Regions from separate parts of the Homo sapiens genome. Here region 1 is reported to be linked to region 2. Evidence: microRNA targets listed by miRTarBase, many of them from high-throughput screens and not tested one by one. Region 2 holds a microRNA gene; the other region holds the end of a gene's coding sequence.
The links. Region 2 holds the annotated microRNA hsa-miR-4299 (GCUGGUGACAUGAGAGGC, at 2,714-2,731, opposite strand). A microRNA usually pairs through its seed, bases 2 to 8, with sites in the 3' UTR of a target mRNA and lowers its output. Matches are read on the target gene's strand: a 7mer-m8 pairs with bases 2 to 8, a 7mer-A1 pairs with bases 2 to 7 and ends in A, and an 8mer does both.

Region 1 (4,000 bases), not on the chromosome of region 2:
CAAAATGTGCTGTGAAGCAGGAAAGTACATAGCATCCTGTACTTTCATACCGCTCAATGCATCTCTGCAAGCTTATCCCAAGTGCTGCCTCATCTGATCTCACCACAGGAATCACAGCAACATTTCAGATAAGGAAAAGGAGGTCAAGGGCTTGGGTCAAAGTCACCACAGCAGTTAGTGGGGGTCAAAGATTGCAATGAGCATTTCTCTTCTTCCTGCCCCAGATGATTGGACTTAACAAGGCCAAGGAAAGCTTAAGTGGGTCATCATCCCTGGCTTTCCTTAAACATCAGCAGGGTGGGAATGGCTAACAGGAGGAGAAACACAGAGTGTGAACTTGTATCACCCCCCACCTGCCTACCCAGAGACTGTCTATGTGAGTGAGATGAACACAAACCCCAGTACAGTGAAACACTTTTATGAAGGCTGCCTGAGAGGTAATCTACTGACTTGGAGAGTATGTTCAAGGGATCATATAGGAAAGTCATGGGCTCTTCCCCACGCAACCATCTCCAGAGACCTAAATAAAAAGCAAATTTAATACGAATAAGTGGACAGATGAGCTGCCCAGTAGGCAGGCACTGAGAGACTGATCAGTGGGATACTCAAGCAGAGTGAGACAGAGCGGAACCTTCCAAGTGGTATTAGTGTTGACCTGGATTACATCCCATAATGAGTTCTGGATCCAGAATTACCTGAGGGAAGGGGTCTGTTAGCAGTGCCATAAAGGGTCAGTGGCTCTGATCTCCCAGGCGTCAGGGTCCCTTGCAGAGATGACTGAGAACCAAGTGCACAAAGCACAGATGAAGCTGCTACAGGCTGGAACCCCAGGGGCCACTGGAATGTCCATTTCCTGCAGCCTGCCTATACTGAGGTTTAATCTAGATAACGTTTGACAAAAGGGTCAGGGTAAGATTAGGAGATGATAATTAACCTCTAGGAGTCTACCTCATTGTACAGCTGCTCCCCCACTGGGTACTCCCATTCTTCTAAGACCAAGGGCTGCCAGTGGGACCCACACTGCTCTGCATCAAGCTTCCAGACCACTGCCCACCCTCCCTTCCTCAAAAGGCTCTCACCTGGGAGATGCTATCCTGTCATGCCTGCTTTCCCCTCTGGCAGGTGCCACTGGCCTTGTGGCCACTCCTCTTGTTCACCAAGGATGCTGACTCCTAGGTCACACCATTCTCCTCAACATCTGTCGGTTTCTTGCTTCAGCACCCATGTGGAGGCTCACCCTGCCCTCCAGCCTCGCCAACCCTAGATTTCACTTCTTAAGGCTCCTCCCTGGCTCTGGCCAGCAACCCCAGGTCATACCCTCTATTTTGCCTTTACCTGAGATTGCTCCACCTCTCAATTTCCAAAGCACTCCTGTCTGGCTCAAATATACCTCCCTGCCCAACCCCTCACCATGCTGGAGTTTCTATCTTGTCAAGACCTCTAATTTCCTAATCCCTCCCTAGTCACCTCCTGTTTTCAATTCCAATTTCTTGGTCAGATTAAACCTTAGACTGCACATTTCATCACTACAATTTCTCCTGTGTATGTCTTCTGAACTGACCCATCTTTCTCTCAACTCCTTTTACTTCCCTGGCAAAACCCCAACACTGCAGTAAGTGTACCCATCCCAGCTCCTGAATCCTGATGAGGGGAAGACAGGTGTGTGCAGAGCCCCACTCAACACACACACACCTGAGTGCCCAGCATCCTACTCTAAACTGACCATCTCAGAGCTCAGCCTTGCCCTGCCCTTCTGCTGTTGCCTTAATCAACCTGTTTTCCAACACCTAGGAAAACATCTACTTCATACCTTCTGAGAACACACTCCACCCACAACTAGCTGATAGTCTCACTTCATTTCACAAAGAAGAGATTCAAACTCCTTCATCATTTCCCCATTAATTTAGTCATCCTAATCTTCTATACTTGCCCCTTTCTGTTTTATTGAGCCATATGAGGCTGCAGGACTGTGTCTCTTCCTACAAAGGTCCCATCCCTCCTTCTTTCTCATGGACTCTGCTCCTTCAGGGGTCCTCCTCTTTGTGCCCCTCCCATCTCTCTCATCACACCATCTTGACTGTTGCCATCAATATTGGCATGCTCTACCTCCCATCTTAAACATGCCTTGACTCCATAGCTCTCTATTATTAACCTGAGCCCCTTGAAGGCCAACTTCTCACACGTTCTACTCCCCAACTTTCCATTCACTCAACCAGTACAGCCTGCCTTCCATACCGCCCTTCCTGAAACTGCTGCCATCATAGTCATCAAACACTTCATGTTACTGAATTCAATGGACAGTTTTGCCTCTGTTTTAGTGAAACCCTCACAAGCACTCTGCATAGTCCGCTTTCTGTCTTCTTTAACGTGCCTGGTTCCCTCTGCCCAAACTTTTAGGATTGGGCCTCCTCAGGGCCTTGTCCTGAGCCCTCTTCTTTTTCTCTCTCCATGGATTACCTCCTCCAGTCTATGTTTTTATACCACCTTTATGTAGATGAAGTGAAGGCAGGGTGGTGCTAGACTGGGGTGGGTCAATTCCCTTCTGATAGTCTCGGAGTCTCAGGCATCCCAAAGATGAAAGCTCTAGAGGAGAGACACCAGTCCTCACAGGACTCATGTCCATGCTCAGTCCAAGGAGACCTAGCCACTTCCTTACCCTTCCTGCTCAGTTTCAGAAGAAAAGGATTGGGGATTGGTTGGGCTGCTCTCCCACCTTTTAAGAGCCAACTGCTTTGGTCACCACTCAAGACAAGAGCAAGTCTATTTTCAGAAAGCACAGGGGGTGCTCTGTTTCTCTATCCTCCCTAACAAATAGGCTGGGCTAGACCCTGGAGGGCAACCATGGAGGAGTGTGGGAAGGATTCACCCTTGCTTCAGAAGCTCCTTGCAATCAGGGACCAGGGTAGTGTGACAAATGCCACTTCAAGGTTAAACTGGACATGACCAGGGGAAGGTGTCAGGCTGTGTGTTGTTACAGATTGTATATTTGCATGCCTGGGGGTTACCAGGCTGTACGCATATAAACAGGGAGGAGGCAGGCTCTGAGAACCTGCCAGGGTGCCTGGGATAAGCTGTGACTTTTTGCCCCTGATGCCATAAGTTGGAGGGTCCTCTGCTCAAAACATATGGTACACACTTCTCCTTCTTTTCATCTGGTATCATGTATCATCTCTCAGATCCAATAAGAAAACATTCCCACGTCCTTCCCTCCCTCCCTAGTACCAAGGTCCTCATCTCAGTTTTCATGGGTCCATGGAGGGCTGCCTCTAGTGATGAGCTGGAATCTTAAGGCCTGAAATAGAGCCAGACTGCAGCAGTCCCAAGTCCTGGAGAGCTTCAAGTAACTGCTCCCGCGCAGAGCCAATAAAGGAATTCTCCAGGAAGGTAGGCAGGCCTCCTACACCATCCCGCAGGGTATACAGGGGCACTCGCACCAGGCCCAGCACCTGTAAAAGGAAGGAGACAGGAGACACTAGGGCCCCAGGTGGCTCATTCCCTTAACTCCATCCTTTCTCCAGCAGATCAGGCCTCACCCCTTAATACTCCAGCAGAACCAGGCCCAAGGCTCACACCTCACTAAAGCCTAGTGGCCCAACCTTCTGCAGGAAAATGACCCAAAACATATTATCTAGCTCTATCAATTAATCTTTCCCACATCTGCTTCTAAACCTCTAGTGGCTACTGCCTCAAAGATGTATTCATACCCTTTCACCAGTGGTTGTCAAAATGTGGTCCTCAGATTATTTGCATCAGCATTATTTGGGAACTTTTGAAAACTACAAATTCTCAGGTTTCCTCTCCCCCCGCCCCACCACCAATGCAGGAATGCTGAGAGAAATCGCTATTTTAATAAGACGCCCCGATGATTCTGCTACCTGCCAAATTTTGAGAACCACCTTCATACATAATCTATCTACTAGCCCTGCCTGAAATATCAGGGCCACATCTCCTACACAAGAAAAGCAAACCCCAAGAATAAAACCTAGGTTGCCACACCTAG
Region 2 (4,524 bases):
CTATTTACCCAAAAGAAATGAAAACATGTGTTTACACAGAGACTTATACATGAACATTCATAGCAGCATCATTTATAATAGTCCAAGATTGGAAAAAAAATTAATTGTCCATCAATAAGAGCATAGACAAATAAATAGTGGTATGTCCATAAAATGGATTACTGTTTGTTAGGCAAATAAAAAAGGAACAGACTACTATTACAAGACAGCCTTGTGTTCACTAGTGCCTACTTGGGTGTATATAATCATGAAAACTCACTGAATAGACAAAATAAGATTTGCACATTTTATAGTATATAAATTATATTTCAATATGAAAAGTGTAATGGGAAGTTGCTGAAGAGTTTTCAAAGTAAGGAAAAAATGTAATTTGATTTTTTTTTTACAGATTCCTCAGATCACTTTGTGAAAATAGATTTGAAGGGAGCTTAAGAACAAGTAGGGTGACCAGTAAAGGGGTTAATGCCATAGTCCAAGAAAAAGATTCTGAAGGCTTAGACTAGTGAGGAATAACAGAAGCCAACAGACAGACTTAAGATATACTTAGGAGATAGAAATGACAGGATTTATTGATTTTTTAAAAAGATGAGGTGTAAGAATCACTTGAACCCAGGAGTTTGAGACCAGCCTAGGCAACATAGCAAGAACCCCTCTCTACAAAAAAAAAAAAAACAAACCAAAAAGACATTGAATTAGCCAGGCAAGGCGGTGTGCATCTGTAGTCCAAGCTACTTAGCAGACTGAGGTGGGTGGATCTCTTGAGCCCAGGAGGTCAAGGTTGCAGTGAATTATGATAGCACCACTGCACTCCAGCCTGGACAACAGAGAGAGATTCTGTCTCAAAAAAAAAAAAAAAAAAAAAACAACAACAAAATGAAGAAATAAAGGATAAGACTTACATTTTTGGCTTGAGCAAGTGGGTGGAGAGTCTTGCCATTTACTAAAATGAATAGGTAAACTATGAGAGGAGCTGGTTGAAGATACTACAGGGGAAAGAAAATCAAGAGTTCTGTTCTGGCATTGAAAACACATGAATATAAAGATATGAACAACAGACATTGAGGACCACAAGAAGGAGGAGGGAGTGAGGGCAGCAAGGGCAGGTAGAAAGTTGGATATGTGTATCTAAAGGTCAAAGGAGAGATTGATCTGGATATATAAATTTAGACAACATCAGCATGCAGATGATATCTTGGGCCATGAAAATAAATCATTTAGGAAGAGAGTGCAGACAGAATAAGCACTGTAAAAAAAAAAAAAAAGCAATATGTAGACATTGGTACAGGAAGAGCACCTATAAAAGAGACTGGGATGAAATTGTCAGAGATCTAGAGAAAGGAAGAAAACCAAAGGTGGACTGTCAAATAAAGGAGTGGCCACTGGGATACAACTCAAGTGAGAAACTGAGCAAAATGAGAGTATAAATTGTCCATTGGACTTGGCAACCTGGAGATTGTTGGTAACCTTGACACAAGAAGTTTGGGTGAAGTGTTAAAGTCAGAGACCCAACTCGAGAGTCTGAAAACTAATTAAAGGCTTAAACCATGGAACAAGTATGTAAACAGCTATTTTGAGATGTTAAACTGTGAAGCGATGCAGAGAAATGGGCAGTAGCTGAAGAGGGATGAAGGAATCAAAAAAGGACTTTTAGGCTTAAGGGAATGTCAATCGTGTTTGTGAACTGAAGAGACTAGCCCTAGAGAAGAGGGTAGGATTGGTAATTTAGGATGAATAGGAGATAGCCAGAGGAGTAAAACCTTGAGAAGGTAAGAAAGGACAGGATCTAGAACTCCAGGAGTATCCAGCTCCAGGAACTGGGGTGGGAACAGCATATTTTCACCTTTATACCAGAAGGACCAGAAGCAGAAGACCCAAATGAACTCAGATGTAAGCTAGGGGCATTTATGGCTGATGGTTCTAATTTTTTTAATTAAATACAATTGAAACAGGATAATTAGATCAGAGTGAAGGGTGCAGGAATGGAGTAGGGAATTTGAGAAGATAGGCAAAGGTAGGAAATAGCATCCTAAATGATGGAAAAGCAAGTTTATTAACTACAGTTTGAATACCAAGTGGTGGGTTGAGATTATGCATTTAAAAAGAAGCTTCTCAGTTTGTGTGATTTTCTCCAGCAACATACAGTTGCTCAAATTCTGGCAGGTAATGGGTTGAGTACATTCAGCTTGGAGTTTTGCCAAGTGAGTATGACAGCTATAGAGAGAGACACAGAATGACTGAACAAGTGATGAAAACTGTGGACCATATAAAGAATGCTCGACAGAAGGAACATGTTGACAAAAGGGCAGGTTCTCACTCGATTTCCAGTCTCTGGATCTGGGCTTCCCTTCCCTTCCATCTCCCCACAACCACACACACTGCATTTGGATACATGTATGCCTCTCTCTATTCTAACTGGAGGTTGGAAGAGAGATTTAATCAGCTCCCAGCCCAGCTTCTGGAGTGAAGTCTTGGTCTCCTCTGACTTACAGATGCAGATTCAGCATACAGTACTGAGCACCTCTGAACCCATCCCCGTGCCCAGATTGAAACTTCATGTGGTACCCTGGTTCAAAGAACAGGGCTATCATCACCTAGAACCCCTTTCTCAGACCTATGCTTCCATAAAGTAGAGACCCTCAAACTAGTGGCTAGAGTTCTCCTGCCTGCCACCAACCTTCTCACATCAGGGCCTCCCCACCATGGTCCTTTTTCTGCCTCTCATGTCACCAGCTCTCTCTAAAGGAGAAAACACTGTAACATGATTGGTCAGAACCCAAACAATCAATGGACCATATTTTACTAATAGGCTTGATCAGTTTTGTAGGTGGTGTTTTGTTTCCTATTTGACCATTGTTCCTTGTGGGCACCTTCCTTAGAGAATAATCTAGTGGGAAGAAGGGTTGGCATCTAGGCAGGCCTGTGTTCCTGGCCATCATGTCATTATAGCAGAACCCAAAGCTCACTTTGACTCCTCAACCACCCAACAACCTACCAGGATTCCTGGTTAAATGCACCGTAAATTCCCCATGAATTAGCCCTACCCTCTTAATGATATCCCCAAACCTTCATTTTGACACCCACTACAACATTACTTATTATAAATCGAGTTGGGTCCCCAAAAAAGATATGTTGAAGTCCTAACCCCCAATACCTCAGAATGTGACCTTATTTGGAAATTGGGTCATTGCAGATGTAATTTCTTAAAACAAGTCATACTGGAGTAGGGTAGGCCCTTAGTCCAATATGGTTGGTGTCCTTGTGAGAAGAGAAGAGCTGCAGAGACTCAGGTACACAAGGGAAGAATACCATGTGACAACCGAGGCAGAGACTGAGGTATGCAGCTCCAAGCCAAGGAATGCCAAGGATTGCTGGCAAAGCACCAGAAGCTAGGAAGAGGCAAAGAAAGATTCTCTCCTACAGGATCAGAAGGAACATGATCCTGCTATCACCTCAATTTTGGATTTCTGCCTCCAGAACTATGAGACAGTAAATATCTGTTGGTTTAAGTCACCGAGTTTGTGTTGTGTTCCAGGAAGGGTCTACATGACATGTGGCCATGACATCTATCCAGCTCAGGAAACACGGAGTGCTCCAGCCAGCCCAGGAGGAAAGCACCTGTTTCCTTACTAGCAGCGCAAGAAAGAATTCTGAAAGAGAGCAAGAACGGCTCACATTGAGCCATCTGCATAGTGACCCAGGGAAGCCAGGGCCCCTGGGTGCCATGTCTCTGCACACTAGAGCAGAGACCACACTCCTCAGGCCACCCAGCATGTCAAGATGTGTGAGGGCGAGATGCCAGGACCCTAGAGGGACTAAACTGTCAGCAAAATGAAAGAAAGTCTGTTTAACTTCCTCTCAAAAATGAATGACTAAGCCAGGTCCAGTGGTGCCCACCTGTAATCTCAGCTACTCAGCAGGCTGAGGCAGGAAGATCTGGAGCCCAGGAGTTCAAGGCTGCAGTGAGCTATGATCACACCATTGCACTCCAGCCTGGGCAACAGAGTGAGACCCTGTCTCTAAAAAAATAGAAATAAATAAAAAGAAAAATCAAAATTATCTTCTTTAAAAAACTATTTACTATCAGAGACAGAATAAATTTTTAGAAGCCTGCTTGATGTTTGAATATCATGAAAGATTCTTGGTCTCTGTAAGGTAGACTAAAAGAATCACAAATAAAGACTCAGCTGAGTTAAAAATTGGAAAACAAAGGGAACTGGATGAAATTTAAAAGACATAAAGTTACAATGGAATAAAAATAAAGTAGCAAAACATTTTAAATAGCCCTAAAGGACAATAAATGACAATGATTAGCAAAATTGACCCTCCAAAAAATATCATCTGCAATATAGAGAGCACATTTAGGAAAATCTCCAAGATTAGTGATGAAAGAAAACAGGAGCTGAGAAGGATGAGCGAGGAGGCGATAACCATGGAAACAGATATTGAACATCAAATCACAAAAAGTACTCAGAAAGCAAGAAGCACATCCTGATCTAGCATCTAAGGGATTAGTCCAATGTACAA

Region 1: miRTarBase lists NUDT16 as a target of hsa-miR-4299. The part of its 3' UTR that is shown has no 7-base or 8-base seed match.

What each region holds. Positions count from the first base shown.
Region 1 is chr3:131,382,608-131,386,607 of GRCh38, reverse strand. It overlaps NUDT16 (nudix hydrolase 16), which reads right to left. Exons shown (of 3, transcript NM_152395.3): 3 at 1-3,446. The coding sequence ends at 3,267. Among named protein-coding and RNA genes, the nearest start is that of NUDT16, 2.8 kb to the right of the region's middle. RefSeq lists an enhancer at 3,826-4,000.
Region 2 is chr11:11,653,948-11,658,471 of GRCh38, forward strand. It overlaps MIR4299 (microRNA 4299), which reads right to left and starts at 2,775; the gene lies at 2,704-2,775.